Linked DNA regions of Homo sapiens: all the other regions are linked to region 2. Evidence: fine-mapped expression QTL. A gene starts in region 2. Each other region holds a variant in brackets. All regions are shown on one strand. Distances are from middle to middle.

Evidence for each region. PIP is the estimated chance that this variant, and not a neighbour inherited with it, causes the effect.
Region 1: its variant is fine-mapped to the expression of SH3RF3 in whole blood (INTERVAL, PIP above 0.99).
Region 3: its variant is fine-mapped to the expression of SH3RF3 in whole blood (TOPMed, PIP above 0.99).

What each region holds. Positions count from the first base shown.
Region 1 is chr2:109,026,612-109,034,791 of GRCh38, forward strand. It overlaps a transcript of RANBP2 not described here. Among named protein-coding and RNA genes, the nearest start is that of EDAR, 41 kb to the left of the region's middle. The variant T/A (reference allele first, on the strand shown) is at 4,974.
Region 2 is chr2:109,124,938-109,133,117 of GRCh38, forward strand. SH3RF3 (SH3 domain containing ring finger 3) reads left to right here and starts at 4,268. Exons shown (of 10, transcript NM_001099289.3): 1 at 4,268-5,176. The coding sequence starts at 4,604. It overlaps SH3RF3-AS1 (SH3RF3 antisense RNA 1), which reads right to left and starts at 5,182. Exons shown (of 1, transcript NR_029193.1): 1 at 2,390-5,182. It also overlaps a transcript of RANBP2 not described here. RefSeq lists silencers at 3,484-3,543, 3,924-3,993, 4,004-4,053, 4,084-4,283.
Region 3 is chr2:109,220,565-109,228,744 of GRCh38, forward strand. The region is part of intron 1 of SH3RF3 (SH3 domain containing ring finger 3); the gene reads left to right. It also overlaps a transcript of RANBP2 not described here. Among named protein-coding and RNA genes, the nearest start is that of MIR4265, 83 kb to the left of the region's middle. The variant C/T (reference allele first, on the strand shown) is at 4,801.

The DNA of each region.
Region 1 (8,180 bases), 98 kb before region 2:
TCAAGTGGGGAAAGCAGCAGCCCAGACTGTGCCCCTCACATCCTGATTGCTCGGCACCCTCTAGGTGGGGAAAAAGCTCAAAATGATCTTTTAGAAACAGCTGCTCCTCTCAGTCTTATTTCCACACTTGCCAATTCAGAGCTGCCAAATACTTCTTAAAAATCATTAGAAGTGGCCGGGTGCAGTGGCTCACGCCTGTAATCCCAGCACTTTGGGAGGCCAAGGTGGTGGATCACGAGGTCACCATTCTGGCTAATGTGGTGAAACCCCGTCTCTACTAAAAATACAAAAAATTAGCCAGGCATGGTGGTGGGCGTCTCAAAAAATAAAAAAGAACCTCTGAAGACATTGGCCGGGTGTGGTGGCTCACACCTGTAATTGCAGCACTCTGGGAGGCCAAAGTGGGCAGATCACTTGAGGTCAGGATTTTAAAACCAGCTTGGTGCGTGGTGAAATCCCATCTCTACTAGAAATACAAAAATTAGTTGAGCGTGGTGGTTCGCACCTGTAATAGCAGCTACTTGGGAGGCTGAGGCAGGAGAATCACTAGAATCCTGGAGGCGGAGGTTGCAGTGAGCCAAGATTTGCACCACTGCACTCCAGCCTGGGCAACAGAGTGAGGCTCTGTCTCAAAAAAAAAAAAAAAAAAAAAACAAGGACCTCTGAAGACTTCTTGAAGGAGGGTGGGTCTCCTGGGGGACTAGCCTCATCTTGGAGGCATTGCAGAGGTCTCCTGGGCCCAGCCAGACCCCAGACATCTTGTTCCTTTGTGGAGTCTTCAAGGGAAGAGCTTTTGAAGCCATAAGGAAAGACTGGATTTTGAAGACAAAAGTAACTTTCCTCTTTTGAAGGCAGCATGGAGCCAAGGAAGCCTGTGGAGCCTGACATGAAGGCACAGGCTCTGAGCCTGGCATGTCCATCCACCCTCTGTTTATGATACCCTGGGCAGGGCCTAAGCCCTCCTGGGCCTCAGCTCCCCTCCTGTAAGTGGTGACAGACCTCACAGGGTTATTGGGCACTGACGTGGACAAAGTATCTGGAAGGAAGCAGTGCTGCGTAAGCGTCGTTATGACTATGGGGACTCAGCAGGACCTAGGCCAGGAGCAAGACCTAGAGTTGATGAGGGCCTGGGCTCCAGGAGTGGGCGGGGTGGGTGGGCGGCAGCTCTGCAGCCTGGCATGCTGGCCTCCCCGCCATGCGTCTTCCTTCTCCCTGCAGGCTCTGAGTCCCTGCCAGTCCCCTACTTCTGTCTCTCCCAGAGCTGCTACTCACAGATCCATCCTCAGAGGGAGCACTGGGCTCTGCCAGTTAATGCATGTGTCCTGCTGAGGCAGGGAAGAGCTCAAGGCTTTCCTGGTACTGTTTAAAAACATACTGGCAGGGTGAGGTGGCTCACGCCTGTAATTCCAGCACACTGGGGGGCCAAGACAGGCAGACATCTTGAGCCCAGGAGTTTGAGACCAACCTGGGCAACATGGTGAAACCCTGTCTCTACAAAAAATGCAAAAAATTACCTGGGCCAGGTGACATACACCTGTAGTCTCCACTACTCAGGAGGCTGAGGTGGGTGGATCACCTGAACCCAGGACGTTGAGGCTGCAGTGAGCCATGATCATGCCACTGCACTCCACTCTGGGTGACAGAGTGAGACCCTGTCTCAAAAGAAATAAATAAAATAAAAACATATTGTTCGATTTTAAATGCTAAACCATAATTGACACCTGAGCCTCAGGGCTAATGGAAAGTACAAAGTGCATGCTGGGCCACGGCCCTTACCTCCACTGAAGGAAGAGCCTTACACCAAGAAGGTAGGCCCTGCTGCTGCACCCTGGCTTCCCCGTTGCTGGGAGGCCTGTCTCCACACGCCACCCTCAGGCCCTCCTGCACAGTGGCTCATGGTGGCTGACACACTGTATTTGAGGGTGACAGTCCTTGCATCAACATCTGGACAGTGCTGAATGCTGTTTCAATCTCCTCTGCTGTGCCCTAAGCATCCGATCCCAACAGCCCTCACTTAGAGGAGTGCTCTGACCTATTCCACAGGCCCTCCGAGGGTGGCAGACATGCACCCAAATGAGTAGCTTAAGTCAGTAGGCCCGGTTCTTGCCCTTCCCCCACACATATCTTGCCCCTCCTACACCTTGACCCTGGACCTAAAGCAGCAGAACAGAGCTTAGAGGTCATCGGGTCTAAGCCCCACTCCTGTCTTCCAGAGCAGCCTCACACTCTCAGGATCTGTGTGGCTGTCAGGGACTGTGAGGGCCAACTGAGAATGCATGTGTGAATCTGGCTGTCACGACTTTAGTTGTGATTGTTTATTTATTTATTTGTTTGTTTATTTATTTATTTATTTAGTAGAGACAGGATTTTGCCATATTGCCCAGGCTGGTCTCAAACTCCTGGGCTCAAGCAATCTTCCCACCTCAGCCTCCTAAAGTGCTGGGATTACAGGCGTGAGGCACTGTGCCCGGCCTATGTGATTGTTTATTTCTTTAGCCCTCACCTCATTCTAAACTACAAAAATAAATAAAATAAATAAATAAATAAATAAGGTTTAAGGCAAGATTATTGTTATTACTGTTAATAGGACACCTGGGCCCTTTCCTCCTTCATGTCAACACTGAGTCTATGGAGTCCCTCCCCATCCCAGCCCCCATTCACCCCCATGGCCGCAGCTGCTGGGTTCTGCCTTGGCCACTCCTCCAAGTTCCTTCCATAAAGCTAGTAAAGCATCCAGGAGAGGGATGATGAGGGACCATGTGTAAATGGGAGAAACTTCATTAGGGTAAGGAAGGCATGGGAATCTGGAGGTGGGAAACCATGATGTGGCTGACACTGATGCCTGAAGTTATTGAAGGGTGCCTCAGCCCTCCTGGGAAGCAGCAGCTCAGTGTGTGTCTGTCCGTTTCCAAGGGAAAACCTGGTCCTCTCAATGAGGGGAAAGAGGAGATTCTGCAGCATGTGTGTCCCTGCCGGGCAAACTTTACAGCATCAGGCTCCAAAAGTAGAGCAGGGTGACCCTGGGGAGCCCTCCCTCCTTCCTCGGCCTGGGATGCCTGCCTGCTGCCTGTGCTGTCTCCTCTGTTCCCCTCTCCTTTCCTGGCTGGAACAGCTGCAGGACAGGGCCCCCCGGCAGCCATCATCCAGCCTTTCATCTCTATCCTTGTCTCCAGCCTTGCCAGCAACTTAAGCCTAATCATTGCACAATGAAAGGCTGTTTCTCTCAAATGGATGCAGACATCCTTAGCCTTCAGGGGCAGCCTCTTATTTTGCTCACAGATAAGGCTGTTTATTTTAAAGAAATACTATACTAATAACCCTCTTGACTTGACAAGGATCCTGGTTGCTATCTCTGTATTGATGGATTGATTGATTCATTCATTCAGTAAGCATTTACTGAGTGCCAGTTCGAGTGTGTGGGTGAGTCTTAGATTTACTGCCTCCTTGACATCATTCTTTAGAAAGAATTCTTTGACTCTAACTTTTGTTTGCTACCTCAGAATGTTCTGCCTATGCAAAGAACAGTTTCAAATCAACCTGGATTCGAGAGCTCATGAAACTGATCCTCAGCCTTCATTTTCAGCCTTTTCCTCAATCCTCCCCTGCACAGCCAGCTGGCTCAGCACTCTCCCCAGCAGGCCATGCGCTCAAGTGCTTTACCTTCAACATTTTCCCACTGAAGACCCAGCCTTCTCCTCTAGCCAAATTATGGTATGCTACGTAAAATTCCTTAGAATTCTATTTTAAGTGAATTTCACGTAAGTAAAGCCCATTGTTAATGTCATTGGAAAGGTTATTTTTAAATGAAGAGGTGTGCCATACCCTGCCAAATGTGATAATGTGTATAGTAGCACCTAGCACAGTGCCTGGTGCATTCTGGATAGACAGTAAATATGACCTGAATGAATGAAAGAATGGGCCTCACTGTCTGATGGGATGAGGCTCCCTGAGAAGGAGTGGGGAGTGGTGGCCTCTTTGAGGATGACCAGCAGGCTGTTAAGCAGAAGGCTCCTTCTAGAATTGTACTTTCCTGAGTACCTAGGACCAGCTTGGGGCCCCTCAGGCATCTGAATTTTTGGACCACTTTGGTTTATATAACCCACTTCTTATCCAGGTTCTGTCTCTTGACAGTTTTTGTTGTTGTTGTTGTTGTTTGTTTGTTTTCTAGGTCTCACTATGTTGCCCAGGCTGGTCTTGAACTCCTGGGCTCAAGCAGTCCTTCTGCCTCGGCCTCCAGAGTAGCTGGGACCACAGGTGCACCACACCCGACTTTGGCAGTTTTTTAACATCTCCCAAGTCTTTATTTTCTTGGTAAAATGGTTTAATAATTGGTATATATACTCATAACTAGTACACAGACTAACACAGTGTGCATGTATACCACCATCAGTGTCATCTGCACCTTTTGTCTCACTGACTCATGGTAAGACACGGAGCGCTCCACGAGGGGACGCCATGTGTGGAGATGCTGGAGTCTAAGGGTATTGTGATTGGGCAATGGTAAGAACTCCGGGTCCCTAAGTCCATTCCTGCTGCTACAACAAAACACCTTAGAGAGTAATTTATAAATAGCCATTTCCTTTTCACCGTGCTGGAGGCTGGAAGTCCACCATCAAGGTGTCAGCAGTGAGGGGGGCCTGTTCCTCACAGATGGGGGCTTCTTGATGGGTGCTGGCTGACTCAGCACAGATGGGGGCTCTGATGTGGCAGGGGTGGGGTAGAGACGGGAACGCTCTGCAGAAGGAGCGGAAGGGAGGAAACAGCTTCCTCCAGCCTTCTTATAAGGTTATCAGCCCCGTTCCCCTTACGACGGAATCACTTCCCTGGAGGCCCCCTCTTACTACTGTTGCACCGGGGACTGGGCTTCAATCAGTAGCAGCAGGGGATGCGCGCTCAGACCCAGCAGTCGGCTCTGCCCGCCTCGCCGGGCTGCACCGAGTCCGCGGGTCTCTAGCGCACGGCCTGGCCCCACG[T/A]GCGGCGAGGAGGGCGCAGTGAAGTTCTGCTGTGTGCACCCCCTGCAGCTCGGCCGGGAAGCGCCCGCTGGAGGAACGGAGAGCGCCGCTTCAGCGTCGGCCACGTGGGCCGGGCTCTGCCGGTGGCAACCTGGACGCGCTGCGGGCGCCGGCGAGACCTGCGCCAACGCCTACCTCCGGGCCACAGGCGGGATAAAGCTGCCCCACTTTGCCCCCAGCGAAGAGAACCCTCCTTCCTCTAAGTATTTTCTTCAGCAACTAAGCTTTTCTGTTTGCTCAATTTCTTGTCCCGTGAGCGCTACCACCCACCCCCCGCCACCTTCTTCCCCTCCCCCCACATCCGTTCACTCTCTTTGACCTTTTGCCAAAACTCTGAACGCTCGCTGCCCTCCCTCCCATTTCCTCACCGCGTTTCAGGAGCTGTAAGTTCTTGGTGTTCAAACCCCCTACGGTTACGTAAACAGAACTCTGCAGTTATCTTCTTTCCCTTTCTTCGGAGCTTTGTTTTCAAGTTCATTAGAGACTTCCTGTGGGTGTAATTACCGCTCTGCAGTTTTGAGCGCTGCCCACCTTCCCCCTGTTTTGTTAAAAATGTCATAGATCTTTGGAGATTTCTTTCACTTCTAAAGTTATTACCTGTCTGCCTGCACATCAATCTTGTTGATTTTATTTCAGGGCATTTTCCGGAGTGAACTTCTGCATAGCGATTTTTTTTGTCCCTCCCCACCCCCTCTTTGTTTTGCAGGAAGGTGAAATAAGACAGAAGAAAAGGGTTAGAACTTTAGAACTCCAGGACCCAACCTCAGTCCTTTCAAGCACCGTCTGCAAACAGATGCTGTGCTAGACTCAGCACCCTGTCTGGTGAAACTGCTCCTTGGGGTGACATCGGTCGAATGTGTGAGAGGCTTCAGCGGATGCCCTGACTTTTACACCATGGAAGGGCTTTCTCCTCACTCTCCATTCTTCATCCCACTCCATCCATGCGCTTTCTCCCCTCCCCATGGGGTGGGGTGGGGGAGTCTTTCCTCCAGCTGAGAGCAGAGGCCTTGGCCAACTAGATGTGTCTTCTGGGATTTCACAGTCGGGCCACCTCTCACCTCTTGCACAGGCTGGTGGGTTAAATGAAACTCCTGTAGCAACTCACAGAGCATTTGATTTAAAGCTAAGATTTATAGGAACTCACAAGTCAGAATGGAACAATAATTTCCCTCCGGTTGCACTGCCACTACTGAGGAGCAATCGCCTAATTCCACACAGAGTTTGCTGATTCTGTGGGCCTAACAGAGAACTCCAGATGGGCAACTAGGAGCTAAGAAGTGCATCCTATGTCACCAGGAGCTAATTTTCCCTGGATTTTCAAAGAGGCCTCATATTTGACCCATGTCATGGCAGGGTGAAATATAAGTCCTTCCTGAACCCTTGGAAGCTGAACGTTGTGGACATCAGCCATGGGAAATACATTTCCTTTAAACTGATCACCAGGCCTTAGTATGATCCATGCCTTGAGTGGACAGAGACCTTTCATGTTTGGTCATTACTCAGCCAGACACTTCTCTGAGAGGTGATGACTTCCCTAGGAAGGAATAACAAAGCCCCTTTCAGGCTGTTGATGGGCCCTGTCCACTTTAATTTTGCATTCAGCCTCGCTCATTTCTGTGAGCTGAGATTTTGATTATTCTGATTTCCACGACTCCTTTTGTGAAACAGAGACACTGAGGTGAATGCACGGGCCCAGTCCCCTCCTTTTTGAGTGTGCCCTCGGAAGCAGAGGCAGGTGGTGTTGCCGAAACACCCAGGTTCTGTCTAGGTCCTGCCGCTCCCTGCACAGAAAGCCAATCACAGAGATGACAAGTATTGCCAAGGAAGAAGGCTTTAATCAGGTGCTGTAGCTGAGAAGATGGGAGCCCAGTCTCAAATCCATCTCCCCATCCACCTAAAACTAGGGGTTTATACACCAGGGAAGAAAGATAACAGTGTGTAAGAAAACAGGAACTACGGAGGGGCAAGGAAGCAGTCACAATGTAGGGTATCTCATTGTCTGGATGTGTTGATCTGGTGAGTTTCCCTTCTTTGATGATACTTTTTTTTTGAGAGGCGGTGGCTCATGCCTGTAATCCCAGCACTTTGGGAGGCTGAGGCGGGTGGATCATTTGAGGTCAGGAGTTCGAGACCAGCCTGGCCAACATGGTGAAACCCCGTCTCTACTAAAAATACAAAAAAAATGAGCCAGGTGTGGTGGCGGGCACCTGTAGTCCCAGCAATTCGGGAGGCTGAGGCACGAGAATTGCTTGAACCCAGGAGGCAGAGGCTGCAGTGAGCCGAGATTGCACCACTGCACTTCAGCCTGGCGACAGAGGGAGACCCTGACTCCAAAAAAAAAAAAAAAGGTAAGGTTCAGCCAGGTGTGTTGGCTGACGCCTGTAATCCCAGCACTTTGGGAGGCCAGGTGGGTGGATCACGAGGATCACAAGGTCAAGAGATGGAGAACATCCTGGCAAACATGGTGAAACCCCATCTCTACTAAAAATACAAAAAATTAGCCGGGTGTGGTGGCAGGCACCTATAGTCCCAGCTACTCGGGAGGCTGAGGCAGGAGAATATCACTTGAACCCGGGAGGTGGAGGTTGGAGTGAGCCAAGAGTGTGCCACTGCACTCCAGCCTGGAGACACAGTGAGACTCCATCTCAAAAAAAAAAAAAAAAAAAAAAAAAAGGAAGGTTCAAACTTTAGAACCAGAAGGGTCAATTTCTACGTTTATCCAAAAAACTATTTATGGGACTATTGGGTCAATTTCAGTGGGAGGCCCCAGGGCCATGCCCCAGAGGAAGAGACTGGCGTTTAGGGAATGAAAGCACAGGGAAGTGAGGAACGTGGAGTATTGCAGAGCCAAGCTGAGGGGCTATGGCAAGAGAGGCGAAGAAGAAAGACAAAGCAGCAAGCCAGCAGGCAGAGGGAGGCACAGTGAGGCAAAAGCTGGTTCTGGAGCCACCATGTAAGCAAATTCAGCTCCTTTTACACCTGGCTCAGGCCACTTCATGGAGCTAAGGTGGGGCCGGGTGCCCCATCTTCATCATCCTGTACTCCTAGATTCATTGCAAATAGTTTGTTCTGAGTTTTAGGGCCTTCTGGGATGAATGAGGGGGGTGGTACCCCATTCTTTGCCCACCATAAGCAGCAGAGAAGGCCTCCTCAAAAACCCTGGGGGCT
Region 2 (8,180 bases):
ATGTGCATCAATTTGGGTTCCCAGTTGAAAACAACAAAAATGGACTCTGGTTGATTTAACGAAAAAGAAACTAAGGAAATGAAATTGGAAAACCCATAAGATCAACAGCAAGGCCAGGAAAGCAGTGGAGGCTACAGTCCAGGCTCACCAGGCAGTCAAGTCTGGGGTTGGCCTGTTGCCAAGGCGTGCCCCCACTCTGAGATGCTACAGGCTGCAGGCACTGCTGCTGCCAGCCACCTGCCCCATAGCTGCTGAACTCTCGGTGCTTCCTCTGCCCACGTCCCTCCACCTCCCAGAGTGTGGTGGGGGAGGGGCAGCTTTTGACTAGCTGAGCCTGTCACATTCCCACACCTTAGCAGAGTTGGTGGGGGGGTTAGAATTATCTGACTATCACCATGTGGAGCGTCTTCCAAATCTAAAAAGAAGTTCAAATTTTGGGCCGCCAAAAACCTGACATACAGCCGTCCAGTCCTGTTTCCTCTGAGCTTTTTCTCCTTTGGACAGACGCCCTGTGTTCCTTCAACTGAAACTCATGGATGAGGCCTCCGGATCCCTTACCACATCGTCATTAATTTTTGGTACCCAGAATTGGAAGTAATCTCACAAGTCTGAGGTACAATGGGATTATTTTTTTCCAAACCCTGACCACCCCCCACCTTAACTTTCATGAAGGCATCCGAAGATTTCGTTACTTCTCTAGTCAGCCATAGTACATAGATGACTCATGTTGGCTCATACAATGCTTGTGGTCAACTGAAATCCCCAGATCTTTTTAGGAATGGCTGTAAAGCCAGGTCTTCTCAATTATTTACTTATATAATTGGCTTATTGAACATGTGCAAATTTAACCGAGTAACATAAGACTGTATTTGTAATACTTCAACTATTTAGTTCACACCCTCAAATTCCCTCACGCTGTAGCACAGTGTACTTGGCTACTTCAACCAGAAATTGTAAACTGGCGGTCTGTAGGCCAATTTGACCACACATTTATTTTGTTTGGCTAATATGGTGGTTTTTGAGAACTAAATCGGTTGCCAACTGTTGAACATCAGGAGATGTCATGTAAAAAGCAGCACTTCCAACTTCTCTTGAAAGGTATGAAGGTCTAGCAACATTTGGTCGTCATTCCCCCAGGGCTGGAGCTGGGCAGCAGCTACTTCCTCTGAAGGGTGCAGACAAAGCTCACTGCAGTCCCCACCAGGCCCTGTTGCCTGGGGTTCACCCTGCTTCGTTAATTTCATGCCCTGCCCAGTCACTGTGGACATCTGGGTGCATAGTCTGTGTGTCCTGTGGGTGCTGGTTATGGCAGGGGCAAAAGGGGTAAAGTGGAGAGAGAAGAAAGCTGGGAAAGGTGGGCTTAAGTGGCTCTCTCTTGCTCTTGTCTGTCTTGGGTCGTGCAAGATAAAGATGTACTGAGGGCAGAGATGTGGCGGTGAGCTTCTGGCACGGGCATCTGTGGTTCTGACTGCCCAGCACGGCAATTCTTCTGGAAATTCTCACTTCTCCTGTGTGACTACAGAGAGTGCTGCCAGGTTCCAGATGATCCTGCTCCTGTGGCCAAGGCACACGGGTCCAAAGAGTGACCACTGGTCCATACTAGTGATAGAGTTTTAGAACTTCCAGGAGTGGCTGATGTTGTTGGAAGAAAGGCTCATGAAGATTTGACCGCATTTTCTGTCATGTGGGTTGGGAAGCAGAGGCAGCTGGTGCAAGAAAGTGAAGGGTTGAGTCATCAACTAGAGACAGGGACAGCAACACACACTGCAGGCTCTATCTGTGCTAATCTGGCTCAGCTCTTAGCCTGGGATCCTATGAGATGCCTCGTATTATTAGTGTATATTCTGCTCCCTTTAAAATTTACCTAGAGTTGGTTTCTGTTGCTTGCAACCAAAAGCACCAGGGCATGTCGTCACAGGCCGTCCTTGCTCTCTGTGAGCCCTTCCAGTGCCTGATGGGTCCCCTCTTTATGCTCCCCCTTGTCTACCATCTGCTCTTGGATCAAGCATCCTGGGTGCTCTAAAAAATTCCCCTTGTTCCTGAGCAAGGGTAAGAGTGAAAGGTGGCTCATGTGAACATGTTTCCATGCACTGCGAGGTGTGTGCCCTTCCTTCGGCCCTCAAGGGAAGCCAGGCAGCTCTGGGATGCTTTCCATCTCACCCTGTTGTTGGCGCTGATGTAAATCATACAGATGGAAATCCACATTGCTGAGAGACATCCAGGTTAAGAAAGCCACCTGCTGCTATCAGAAGCAAAGTTTCCAGGGACTAGCATCCTGATATAAGCACAGGATATGTGTAATTGAGATACTAAGATCTGCCTTCAAATCACCAGTAGGTGATGAGAGAGAGAGAGAGAGAGAGGGAGAGAGAGAAAGAGAGACGTATCCTTTCATTAATTCTACAAATATTTATTGAACACCTACTATATGCTAGTCACTGCCCTAGGCACTAAGGATATTACAGTAGAAAAGATCTGTAGCTTACAGAGAGCTTACATTCTAATGGCATGTAAACTTTATGTGTTAGTTCTGTGGATACAAAAATGAAAATTCAGCCCCAATGGCTTTACAAGTATGAATATCACTTTCCTCATTTGTAAAATGAGTTTAAAATAATTATCACAGGTTGGGCACCGTGGCTGGCGCCTGTACTCCCAGCACTTTGTGAAGATGAGGTTGGAGGATCTCTTGAGCCCAGGAGTTTGAGACTAGCCTGGGCAACATAAGGAGACCCTGTCGCTACAAAAAATTTAAATTAAAAATTTAGCCAGGCGTGGTGGCGCACCTGTAGTTTCAACTATTCAGGAGGCTGAGGTGAAAGGATGGCTTGAGCCCAAGAGTTTGAGGCTGCAGTGAGCCGTGATAGCACCCCGCGCTCTAGCCTGCCTGACAGAACGAGATCCTGTCTAAAGCTATGGAAGTAAATATAAATAAATAAAATAATTATCTGGCAGAGCTGTTTAGAGGATTAAATAATATATAGCACGCTCTTGGCCTTTTAGCCTCAACAAATACTACTTTTTTCCTTAATAATAACAGAAAGATCATACAACTTCACAAACCACAAGGACAGGCTGGCCGATAGGCAGGCCCCCCACGACTCTTCTGATGTTAGCCCTGACTGAACTCGCTGTGCAGCGTCCAACCAATCCTGGTTTGTGCTGGGCCCTGGACTGGAACCCAGCCCTTCCCGACGGGAACGCAAAGCGGCCACGAGGGGGCAGCGCACGGCAGGGAATCTTCGCCGCCGACCCCAGCCCACCGCCAAACTTCCCTGCTGCTCTCGGTCCTCCTGTACGTACTTCCGTTGCTCTGACGCTCCCAGAAGCCGGGGCGTCGGGAAGGAGAGCGCGAATTCACCCTCCTCTGCGCCTCCGTAGGAAAAAATTGGAGCGGGGGTTCACGAGACTGCGCCGCGGCGGGCGCTAGAGCCCCTCGCACAGCGTCGCCAAGGGTGCGGCGTGGAGCCGGGCGCCTGGCGCCAGGGTGCTGGTCGGCGGGCAGCGGCGCCAGCCTCCGACCCGCGACTCCGGCGAGCCAAGGCTGCGCCGGGAGGAGTCGGCGCGGGCCCCGGGGTGCCCCCTTCAACTGGAGCGCCTTCCCCTCCTGCCTTGCGGCGCATCCCCACACCTACACCGGAACGAAGCTCCGGGGCTGTCACTTCTGCGCGCTTCTCGGAAAGGAGTCTGAACTGGGAGCGCTCCGGGGGGTCGTCGGGGAGGATGCCCGGGCGTCGGCTGTGTCCCCAAGCTGCTCGCCGGCGCTGGCGAGGAAGGCAGTCGGGATAACGCCGCCCAAACTTTCCTTCGCAGCAGCGTTGGCAGGAAACGTCCCTCTCTGAGGCTCACGAAAAGCCGAAAAAGACTCGGACGCTTGGAGGAGGCAGGGCCAAGCCTGCGCAGGAGAGGTTCCCCGGAGCCCTGGAGATGTCCTAGGGGACCAGGCTAATCGCCGGCTTGCGCCCAAGCGAAGGGAAGTCCTGCAGGCACGGCGCCTCCTTCCCTGAGCCCCGCAGTGACCGTGACCTCCGCGCGCACCCCCGCGCACGTGCTCGCGGCCGAGGAAGAGGAACGGTCCTGCTGAATCCTCTGGAGGACAGCGACTAGCGAGCAGGCCAGGGGCGCATGGAGGTGCCGCGGGGGCGGTGCGGCTCGCCAGCTGCGCGGAGGAGCGTGCACGCCGCGCCCCGGCCTCCCCGGGGACCTGGCCGGCCGCTGCCCGCACTTCCTGCCGCTGGTCTCCCAGGCGCGAGCCGCCGCTTGCAGCACAGAACCCGTTGAGCTTCGTGCCCGGCAGCACCCCCGGTCCCCCGCGCGGGGCGGACTTGCGGCGGGACAGGTGTAGCCCGCAGCCGCAGGCGCTGCGCTCAGGACTGGGCGGGCTCGGCTGGCCGGTCCCCGCCACGCAGGCCGGTCCCCGCCACGCAGGCCGGTCGGTGAGCCACTTCGCACCGCCACAGCCCTAGCATCGGGCCACCAGCCGGGGTGAAGAAAGTCACGGCGGAGCCCGGCTCCCCAGTCCTGATGCTGGCTGCCGGTGGCGGGCTCCACGCCGGCCCCGGGACCTAGGCAGCCGCGCGAGACCGCTGCGGGCGCCTCCCCCATGCTGCTCGGAGCGTCCTGGCTGTGCGCATCCAAGGCGGCCGCCGCTGCTGCGCAGAGCGAGGGCGACGAGGACAGGCCAGGCGAGCGACGGCGGCGTCGGGCGGCGGCCACCGCCGCGGGGGCGGGCGAGGACATGGACGAGTCGTCGCTGCTGGACCTGCTGGAGTGCTCCGTGTGTCTGGAGCGCCTGGACACCACGGCCAAGGTGCTGCCATGCCAACACACTTTCTGCCGCCGCTGCCTGGAGAGCATCGTGTGCTCGCGCCACGAGCTGCGCTGCCCCGAGTGCCGCATCCTGGTGGGCTGCGGCGTGGACGAACTGCCCGCCAACATCTTGCTGGTGCGACTGCTGGACGGCATCCGTCAGCGGCCCCGCGCGGGCACCAGCCCCGGCGGCAGCCCGCCCGCGCGTCCCATCCCAGGCCAGAGTGCGGCCCCCACGCTCGCGGGCGGCGGGGGCGGCGCGGCAGGCAGCACCCCGGGTTCCCCGGTTTTCCTCTCCGCGGCCGCGGGCAGCACCGCCGGCAGTCTGCGGGAGCTGGCGACCAGCAGGACCGCGCCGGCGGCAAAGGTGAGTATCTGTCTCGGCGGAAGTGGCCACGGCACGTGGGAGTGTGTGGGTGGGTGCTTGGGCGTGGGGGGCAGTGATGAGGTGCGGAGGAGACCACGGGTGGTCCTGCGTTGGCCCACTCCGCTGTTGCTCTTCCTCCAACTTCGCTTGCTTGGTGGCGGCATCCGGCCCCTGGGCAGCTCGCCGCTTGTTCACGTGTGTCCCATCCTCCTGTGGAGTGGGCACGCCTTCCTGTCCCGTCGCTCACCCCCGATTCCTTGGCCGGACTTGTTACCCTGCCTCTTAAACTTAGCATCGCCCTTGCGTCTCCCTAGAAACGGGGACCTTCTTCCTCTGGGTCCCCAGACACTCCCTCTGCACACCCTGGGCCTGCCTAGAGAAAAGTTAGCCCTTAACGTTTCTGACAGGGCTCTGATGGCTGCTCTGGGAAGCCCGCGGGCCTCCTGCCTGCGGTGTGGCTAAGGAGGGGAGGGCAGAAGGCAGAGTGGGACTGGGGTTTGGAGGAATGCTTCTAGTAGTCTGGAAGGAGTTAATCTGGAGGCCCCAGGAGCCTTTTGACCCAGCCCTTTTGGACTTGGCAGTGTCTAACCAGAAGCCAAGGTCTTCTCCTGGGCTCCCAGGCAGGGTTGCATTCCCACGGGGGTCATTTATATTTATTATTATTATTTTTGGTACAGCCGCATTTTAGGGCCTTCGCTGCTTCTGTTTTAGACGAAAGATCTTCTCTGGATGGCTTCAATGATTTGGTTTTAAAAGCTTCTTACAGCTTCTTATTACACACCCTTGCCACCTTGTGAACAGTTACCAGGAGAGAGGGCATGGGATGCTGGTTTAAATGAGAAAAGAAAGGACCCGGGTTTTGTTAATTTCTTTAAATGGAGAAAAGCACTTAAATGTTAAAAAAAATACATTATCTATTGGAATAATCATTTGCTTTAGAAACACAACTTTATTCCTCTACTTTTGACCATTTAAGGAGTTGGTGATGCCTAGTCCTTCCACTATGTGTAATCCTGAAATGCTGGGAACATTCTAGCACCTGGATTAGGCAGTACTGCAAATCTCTAAGGTTAAGGTTAGGAACTTAAACCCTTGGATGTTGAGCTTGAGTTAAATGCCATACTTTGCTGCAATGGGTTTTTTTTTCTATGGATCAGGAAGAATGGGGACAGTCAAGGATAGTCACTGGGGGTCACTTGGGGGGCACTGCTGAAGGGGAATTTTTTTCTTTGGTTTTAATTGTGATTAAATCCAGCTAAATGCTTGCGTTAGAAATTTTCAAACTTTTCCTTCCTGGCCTTGCTGTTTTTGATGTAAGGTATTTATAATTAAATATCTTTATTTGCAGAATAAGTGGGTTACCTTCTTCTGTTCTGATAAATTATGTGATATTCGGAGCCCCGCTTCTAGTAAAACGCTGGGACATTCTGATGACCATCTGTTTACAGATGTCCTCTCAGTTTATCTTGGGGGACTTTGTGTTTGACCAGGAGGTTAGGAGGTAACCTCTGACATGTGACAGGCTGAAGCTTTGATGCCACTCCGGGAATTCTGTGGCATTTGTAGTACCTTTTAGAACTTGTCAAAGGGGTTGAAGCTTGGAACTTTTTAGTAGTGACATTTAGTATTAGCAGGAAATTGATGTTTTACTCACCATATGTTGAGACCCTTGGTTGACTTTCTTTATGGGTGCATAGTCATGTTCATGACTTTTTGTGTTTTTGGGATGTTTCTGGATGTTGTTTAATAGACGAGCACTTATTTAACTAATAAGCAGGAGTCCCGCATGGTGTATTCACACTACACTAGCACTATACTACCATGCTGGGATAATAGCATTAGGTCCAGCACATGCTTCGGGAGTGGGAAGGATTGTAATAGCATATCAGGCATTGAGCAACCCTATACAGTTGGTTGACAAAGATTTCGGCTGAAAATTACTTTTGGTACTTTACTGTCCATTGGAATTGCTTGACTCCTGCCAGGAAAGTTGAATGCTGGATGTTGTTGCATGTTGTTTAATAGAGGGGCACTTATTTAACTAATATGCCATGATAGCAGGTAACCATAAATATTACAGTCCCATCATTTTCCAATTAGAAGCTCCTTACATCTTCTTTTGGGCCAATTAGGGTATGTATACTTTTTAGGTATATAGGTAAGTATTGGCATAGCTTGTTTACTTTATTAATTTTGTTACGGTTCAATATTTTGACAGCTTTATTTAAAAAAAAGTTTTAATTTCTGTTTGGTTTTACTGGCAGGACACAAAACAGTGTTTTCCTGAACTCTTTACCTGTTGTTTTTCATCGGTTTTGGTGATCACCAGAGTACTTGGAGTCCCCTGACGTGGTTAGCAGAACCTCTCAGCTCTGCTCTCACCTGAGCCATTTGAGATAAAGCGCTTTTGTGGAGTCAGTTAACGATGCTGCCCCTGGAAATAATATACCCAGTGACGAGTACCCATAGCCTAAGATCAGGAGTTGGTCTTTTTATTTGCCTGTTGGCAAATACTATATGTGTGTTGCTTCTTAAAGTGTGTTCATATGTGTTACTTCTTGAAGTGACCTTTAAACAGTCCTGTTTTAATGGTACTGTCTAACCCTTGCAGTTGCTAATGTATGCTAAATTTCTCAGGCTAACTTGTTTGTTTATTGTTTTGTTTTCACTATTTTGCAAGAAAATCCCTTTAACATCCCAAGCTAGCATCAATCAAATTGTTTCAGTGCAGTGGGAGTCTTGCTAAAAGAGTTTTGTGGTTCCACATTGAGTAATTCAAAACATGCTTTTTAATGTAAGTGATTTAATAAGGACTTGAATATCAGACAATTCCAATTTTGTTTTGAAAATTTTTTAAATCCTTGACTTATATTTGAGCCTATACAGAACATCTTCTGCAGTTCATGTAGACTCGGCTAGGCACTATTATAGGTAAACAAGACTGGCTTGGGCTTTCTGGATGGAGCTGACAGTAGAGGTAGTGAGTGGTTGCAAGCTGTCTGCC
Region 3 (8,180 bases), 96 kb after region 2:
CTATAACTCAATAATTTAAAAAACCCAATTCAAAAATGGGTCAAGGTTTTCAGTAAACATTTTCCCAAAGATATACAAATGGCCAGTAAGCACATGAAAAGATGCTTCATGTCATTTGTTACTAGAGGAATGCAAATCAGAACCACAGTGAGAAACCATTCCCACCTGTTAGAAGGGGCATTTTCCAAAAAGTAGAAGATAATAAGGGTTAGGATGTGGAGAAATTGTTATGCTAGTGGGCATATAAAATGGTACAGCTGCTGTGCAAAACAGTGTGAAAGGAGTTTGAACATGCAATTACTGTATAATTTGAACACAGAATTAACTATATAATCCAGCAGTTCTATTCCTAGGCTTATACCCAAATGAATTGTGAACCGGGACTGAAACAGATATGTGTACACCAATGTTCATAATTGCATTATTCATAATAGCCAAATGTCCACTGACAGATGACAGGGTAAACAAAATGTGGTATGTATACACAGTTGAGGAATATTCAGCCTTAGAAAGAAATGAAGTTATGACACGTGCTGCATGGATGAACTTTGAAGTCATTATGCTGAGTGAAATAAGTGAGGTGCATACAAGTCATGCACAGAGGAACCATGGACCTGGAATAAAAAGTCAGTCTTCCACATCCTAGTCAGCCTCTCTTAATTTTTTTCTTTTCAATAACAGCCATTCTAACTGGGTGGAGGTGATATTTTATTGTGGTTTTAATGTGCATCTTCCTGGCTGGGCCAGGTGACTCACGGCTGTAATCCCAGCATTTTGGGAGGCTGAGACAGGCAGATCACTTGAGCTCAGGCGTTTGAGACCAGCCTGGCCAATATGGCAAAACCCTGTCTCTACTAAAAATACAAAAATTAGCCAAGTGTGGTGGTGCACGCCTGTAATCCCAGCTACTCGGGAGGCTGAGGCAGAGAATTGCTTGAACCTGGGAGGCAGAGGCTGCGGTAAGCCGCGATCGCGCCAGTGCACTCCAGCCTGGGTGACAGGGTGAGACTCCATCTCAAAAAAAAAAAAAAAAAAAAAGTGTGCATCTTCCTGATGGTTAGTAATGTTGAGCATTTTTTCATAAACCTGTTGGCCATTTCTGTGTCTTTTGAGAAATGTCTCTTCCTTTCCTTCCCCAATTTTTAATGGGATTAAGGACGTGGAGAAAAGGGAACTCACATATACTATTGGTGGGAACATAAATAAGGCAGCCACTATGGAAACCAGTAGGAAAGTTTCTCAGAAAACGAAAACTAGAACTATCATATGATCCAACAATCCCACTGCTGGGTATTTATCCAAAGGAAAAGAAATCAGTGTATCAAAGGGATACCTGCACCCCTGCATTTATTGCAGCACTAGTCACAATAGCAAAGATGTGAATCAGCCCAAGTGTCCATCAACTGATGAATGGATTAAAAAAAAAAAACACAGGGGATACTATTCAGCCTTTCAAAAGAATGAAATCATGTCATTTGCAGCAACATGGATGAAACTGCAGGTGGTTATGGTAAATGAAACAAGCCAGGCACAGAAAGGCAAATATTGGACGATCTCACTCATATGTGGAAGCTAAAAAAGGTGCTCGCATGAAGACAGAGTAGAGTGCCAGATGCCAGTGTCTGGAAAGGATGTGTTGGTGGTAGGGAGGTAAAGAAAGGTTGGTTAAGGGTATAAACATACAGTCAGAAGGAATGAATTCTCGTGTTTGATAGTACAGCAGGGTGATTAGTTAACAACAATTTATTGTATATTTTACAATAGCTAAAAGAGATTTGAATATGTCCCAACACAAAGAAATGATAAAGATTTGAGGTGATGGATATGCTAGTTACCCTGATTTGATCATTACACATTGTATGTATCAAAATATTATATGTACCCCATAAATATGTACAATTATTATGTATCAGTAAAAGTTCCTCCAAAAAAATAAAAAGAGTCCATCCTTCAGCAGAGGGAGTGCATTGTTGGAGGGGCAAGGGTGAGAGGCCAGGAGAGCAGGCCCTGGGCTTAGCCTCCAGCATCCACAGCACGCGTGTGCCCTGGACTGGGCCTAGGAAGGGTGGTGCCCTGGTGGCCTATGCTGGCCCTGTGGAGCCTGGCCAGGCCTTCCCTGTACCTCCTCCCTAAAACCCTGGGATGGCGTGGGCTCCTTTCTTCTACCACTGACATCCAGTGTTTCTGTTAAATTAGGTGGTCTGCCTAAGGACTTTTTGGTTTGCTAAAAGACAAAACAAAACACAGGAAATAAAGCACATTTTCCAGTTCTCAGCCAGCAGCGCAGGTCCTCTGTGACCACATGGCATCCCCAAGGTGTCCGCGTGTATCCCACATGGGGACTCAGCCAGCTGTGAGAGGGATGGACCTGCCCCTGCCTGGGGCTACGGTCCCCATACTCTCCCATCAACAGGGTCTGTACTCACTGCACCCTTCAGGGTGAAGAGGGCACTGTCCGCCCCTGTGGCCATCAGATGGTGTGATCCCACCTCTTGGCAGAGGCTGGCACCACGCCCTGATGCTTCTCCATCCCAGACAGGGGGAAGCAGGTGGTTGGAGAGAGGTGGGAGGATGAGGTTGCCACCTTCTCCTGAAACCAGCATGGGTGCTGCTGCCACAGATCATGAATGCTTTGTCCCCCTTTGCTGCCGTCCCATGCAGTCAAGTGCCCTGATAACCAGGAGTTGGCTGTTACCAGATCCAGAGCCCTCAGAGGCTGCGTGAGCACCAGCCACGTGAGCAGCCTACCTGGTGTGTTTCCCAGAGCCGACAGAGCCAAGAGGGGCGTTCTGAAGCCCGAAGAAGCAGGAGTGGCCACTAGGAGCTGCCGTGTGCTCGCTGTGATGGAGTTGCCGAAGTGCTTTGATTCCTCGGTTATTTCAGGCATTGTCCCCCTTTGGGAGTGGGCATGGCCTGCCCATGTCAGTCCTAGGTCAGTGGCTGGAAATGAGCAGAATGGAAGCGTAGGAAGGGCTTGAGGGGTGTGGGCACATGCTTCAGCTGCGGGCTCCATTCAAGCATCGGTGGAGGGCAGTAGCACCATGCAGACAACTGGAGCTCCTTAGTGCTCCCTGGGTAGCCCTGCACCTCTCCATGGCTCTCCCCTGAATTCTGCCCCCCACGTGATGCTGCCCCAACGTGGAGATCCGGGATGTGTCGTTGTCTTTCCTTGCAGAGCCGTGGAGGACAGCCTCTGAGCCATCCCTGCTAGTCTCTGCTCCTGGCACATGAAAGTGTTCAATACATGTTTGTGCAGAAAGTGAAATTAAAATCTGTCCACTTGGTAGCTGGATGTGGTGGCACATGTCTGTTGTCCCAGCTACTCCGGAGGCTGAGGTAGGAGGATCAGATCACTTGAGCCTGGGGGGTGTGGGTTGCAGTGAGCCATGATTGTGCCACTGCACTCCAGCCTAGGTGACAGAGTGAGACTCCGTCTCAAAAACAAATTCAATCAATAAAATCTGTCCACATGGCTCATTAATGGATAGAATGTTAAGAGCTGGAATAGCTTCAGGGTTTACCTAGCCTCGCCCCTTGTTTTACACAAAAAGAAACTGAGGCCTGGTCTCCCACTTCTGCCCCTGCTTGGCAGGCCTAGAGAGTGTGTGTGCATGTGCAAATGGAGGGGGTGTGGGCATTGGGAGTTTAAACTTGGCTTGAATAGCTAATCAGATCTATCAAAATTAGGTTTTTACCAAGCATAGTAAAATAAGACTTGTTTGGTATTATTAGTGATGCTAAAACTATATGTCACATATTGGACAAATAAGCACATTTTCAGATACGCATGTGGGATTTTGATTGCATGCTGGGTTTAGTCCAAGATTAAATCTGCATTTTGTTCTGATGTAAAAGGGACTTGAAGCAGTTTTTGAGGTCATGTGCATAGCAGCAGTGATGGAAATGTCCTGTGTCTGCTCTGTTCAGTACAGTAGCGACCAGCCACAGGTGACTACTGAGCTCATGAATGTGGCCGGCGTGGCTCAGGAAGTGGCTTTTAAAATTTCATTTTGCCAGGCGCAGTGGCTCACACCTGTAATCCCGGCACTTTGGAAGGCCAAGGCGGGCAGATCACTTGAGGTCAGGAGTTCAAGACCAACCTAGCTAACATGGTGAAACCCCGTCTCTACTAAAATACAAAAATTAGCCCAGCATGGTGGTGGGCACCTGTAATCCCAGCTACTTGGGAGGCTGAGGCATTAGAATCGCTTGAAACCTGGAGAGGGAGGTTGCAGTGGGCTGAGATCATGCCACTGCAGTCCAGCCTGGGTGACAGAGCAAGACTCTGTCTCAAAAAAATTTTTTTTCATTTAATTCTAGTCAATTAAAACTGAAATTTAAATAATTACCTGTGGCTAGTGGCTACTCTAATGGACAGCTAGAGAACTGCAGCATAACCTTATCTTTTTAAAAATCTTATTTTAAAAAGAATTTTGTGGGTTTGAAGGAAAGATTGTCTGGAAGAAGGAAGTGACTGAGACATAGCTTTTTGACACCTGGCCTGGAGCCTTTTCGTTTAGACCAACCAACTAAGCTGGATGACACCAGCACAGTCCCTTAAATTCCCTGGCCTCAGTTTCCTCTTGTGTAAAATGAGGTTCTATGGCTTCTGCTAGTTCTGAGATTCTATCTTGCCCCATTCTTGGCAACTGGGATATGAAGAGCTCTATTTTAATAACGATAATAATAAAGAAGGCTTATTAAACACTGGGGATCCGGCTGAATAGTCCTCAAACCATTGTACTCAGCTGGGTGGAGAGACCTGCAAGTAACCAAGGGAAGTTTCAAAATGTGGGTTTC[C/T]GGGCTCCGCTTGGACCCATTTCACAGGGACCCGAAATCTGCACGTTAACAGGTTTCACAACGATTCTCACACAAACAACTCCCTTTAAAGATACAGGCCAGGCCGACTCCCCACTGGGGACTGGGTGGGCTGACCCACCTGGCCCACTCACACTCACCATGTGGAGTTTTCTCCTGAGAGTTAGGCCAGGGAATGATTTTTAATGTGGGATGCTCCACGTTCCTCTCTGGGACTTCCCATTTGCAATGTCTTAAGTCACTTTCATGTTTGAATTTAGAAAATCAAAAGATGACCGTCTTGTTTCCTGTAAATATCAGGAACAGAGAGGAGAGCAGGTGGTGTGTTTGTCCTAGACTTAAATTTTAAGATTTATTTTTATAAGTTAGTTTCAAGTTTGCTTTCTTTCGTTCTTAAAATTGAGATAGGGTCTCGCTCTGTTGCCCGGGCTGCACTGCAGAAGTGCGATCCCGGCTCACTGTAGCCTTGACCTCCTGGGATGAAGTGATCCTCCCCTCTCAGCCTCCCGAGTAGCTGGGACTATAGTCGCTTTCCACCATGCCAGCTAAAAGTTTGCTTTCAAAGAGTCCCTATTCTAATCTGTTGTTGGAGCTCTCCACAATGAATCACCAAAATACCATTTTAATATTAGAGTAGTATTTTGTCAGGAAAAAATAGGCCTGACCCTGAACAACTTATCTGCATAGCTGTAATATTGTCATTTTTGACTCAGGCTAAATCACTTGTTAATTTTAGGAGGAAATGTCAGAGGAGGTTGTCCCCAAATAGCAGTTATTATCTGTTTCCCAGGTTTATGAACCCAGCTCACAGCTCTGCTTGTCAACATCTGCAGAAGGAACTTAGAGAAAGACTGGCTCCTTTTACATTTTTTTTGTTACAATAGTTAATGTAAGAGTAGTTATGTAAACAGATCAATAAGCTCATTTTGAACATGACCCTGCCAACTGTTTCAAAGCTAAAGTCACATTGACTCAGGAAGGTCAGCTGTTTCATCTACAGTGTCTGTGGCCCATGGAGGAACTGGAGCCATGTGAGGTCTAATGACACACGTGGCCCATGTGCAGTCCTCATCGTTAAGTAAGTACCCTGCTGACCTCTTAAGACATAAACCAAAAATAAACTGTAGCAACCACTTCTTTTTAAGTCCCTTTAAAGTTTAGATTTTTACTGTTCTTAGGGTGACTTTGTGGCTCATCACTCTTAGCTTTTTCTCATTGCTTCTTGAATCGCTCCCCTTTCCTGAGTGTTTCTTGGTCTGCCATCTTGACTTCTCCCGGGGCCATGCATCTGCTCCCTTTGTGGCTCCGTTTGCTCCTAAGTCTTTGCAGGATCTCCACGCAGAAGGCGTGGTGCTGGATCTTTAGGGGACATTCAGATATAGACATGCTTTGTGCCATTAAGGAACTTGTGGCTTAGTAAGAAGAACAGCTGGTTACAGAAATGAACCAGGACCCCTACAGCTGCAGGAGAGAAACTAACTGGAATCAGTCAAAACACAGAGAGAAGCAAAGCCGTGTGGTGGCCCAGATAACCAAGGGTCCTGAGGTAGATGCATCCACCATGGCCGGGTTCATGGCTCAGATGATGCCATCAGGACTTGGTCTCTTTCTAGCTCTGGGTCCCACCAAGCTTTTCCATGGTGGCCTAGCAGCTCCACTGTCCTCTTCATAGGTGCAAGAGGGCTTTAGGGGTCTTTGTCATGTTTCTGGGGTCTTTGCTGGAACATCTGCAGAACTCACGAGATTCACTCCGGCTGAGTGAACTGATGGCAGTGGCAGTGGTTGGCTCAGACTTAGGGTGTGTGTTTTCTCCTGAAATTGAGAGGATCCCACCCAGGCCTCAGGGGCTGAAAGTTGGGGGAAGGAGCTAAGAGAAAATTGGTGCCTGTAGCTAGAAGAAGCTCTGTGAATGTCAGGCACACAAAGCTACACGTCCATGCCAGAAAGTCACAATACTAAGGGACTTCTCAAGTCCTGGTTCTCAGGTCCTTAGGGGTCCTGGTTCATTTCTGTAACCAGCTGTTCTTCTTACTAAGCCACAAGTTCTCACAGTCAAGTAAAAACCAAATGCGACTGGAGTTATGAGGATGGTGACATTGAAGCTATCAGGGACTGCTTCATGTTGGGTGCTTTGTGTGGGCTCCCGGGTCTGCCTGGGCCCTGCCCTTCATCCCTGTCTGCTTCTCTGGGAGATCCCTGGCTCTTGGGATTGTCTGTGTGTGGGAGATTCCCCTGGATCTGGCCTGGCCATGCCCACTGGCTTCATGGGGTACACGGCAGCTCCCCTGCTTCTGTGCTGTGCTCCCTGCAGGTCACAGGATCCACTTCTCTGCAAGTGCCAGAATCTTGTGCAGTCCTTTCGGGTCCAACGCAAGTTCTTTTTCTGGGTAGGTCACCCCCCAGCCAACTGGAGTCAACACTTCCTTTCCCGAATTCCCGCTCACTCTGGCAATCTCCCTTGGCCCTTCGGTCGCTCCGCCTTTCATCGGTTTGTCTGCAACTGCAGTTCCCTGTAGGCTTCATGATGGTGACCGTCATTCCTGATGTTTCCCAAACAAACGTGCATTGGTGCTTTTCTGGCTCAAGGGGCATGGGATTTACATTTGCTGTGGGTAGGAAAGAGTGGGGAATAGTTCAGTGTTTTCCTTTATTTGTAGGAAAGTGATGCCCAGACACAGGTACGAGTGTCTGGTTTGGTACTTTTACTCTCTCTTGACACATACAGGCAATCTCTAATGGCTGTGTTTTCATGCTGCAAATGATGTACTTGCAACGTTTGGCAAACATGGTGCTACTTGCTTATAATACTGTCAGAAATTCAATCGGCAGCCCTCCTAGTCCCCAGGAATGTGCTTGGTGGCAGGTGTTAGCAGTGCGTGTCTATCCCCCAAAGGCTTTTATTGTCTCATTAATGAGCAGGTGCAATAAATGTGTTGTAGACAGCATCTCTGTTAGTCTGAAGATGTTTGGGATGTGTGTTCTATTTCCACATGTCACCCTGTAGAGGAAAACCAACTGTTTTCCTTGATACCCACAATGCACCCAGAACACTTCTGATACCAGATGTGTGTGGGGTTTTGCCACACCAAGCAATTCTCCAGTTGTTTGCAGATGCCAACTGGGTATTCAGTTCAGTTCTGACCCCTTCCATGTGGAGCTAGTATGGACCCTGCAGGTTAAGGGCTCAATCTCATCAGGCTGCCTTCACTTCAGAGGCCAGTTGCAAGAGGTGTCTTCAGGTTACCTGGAACTTCTGTGTGGCGTGGCTGCAAATCTGGTTTATTATATTAGTGGAGGGCATGATAAAAGATACAGGCAAGCAGCCAGATGGAGAGGTACATAGGGCGAGGTCTGGAAGGGTC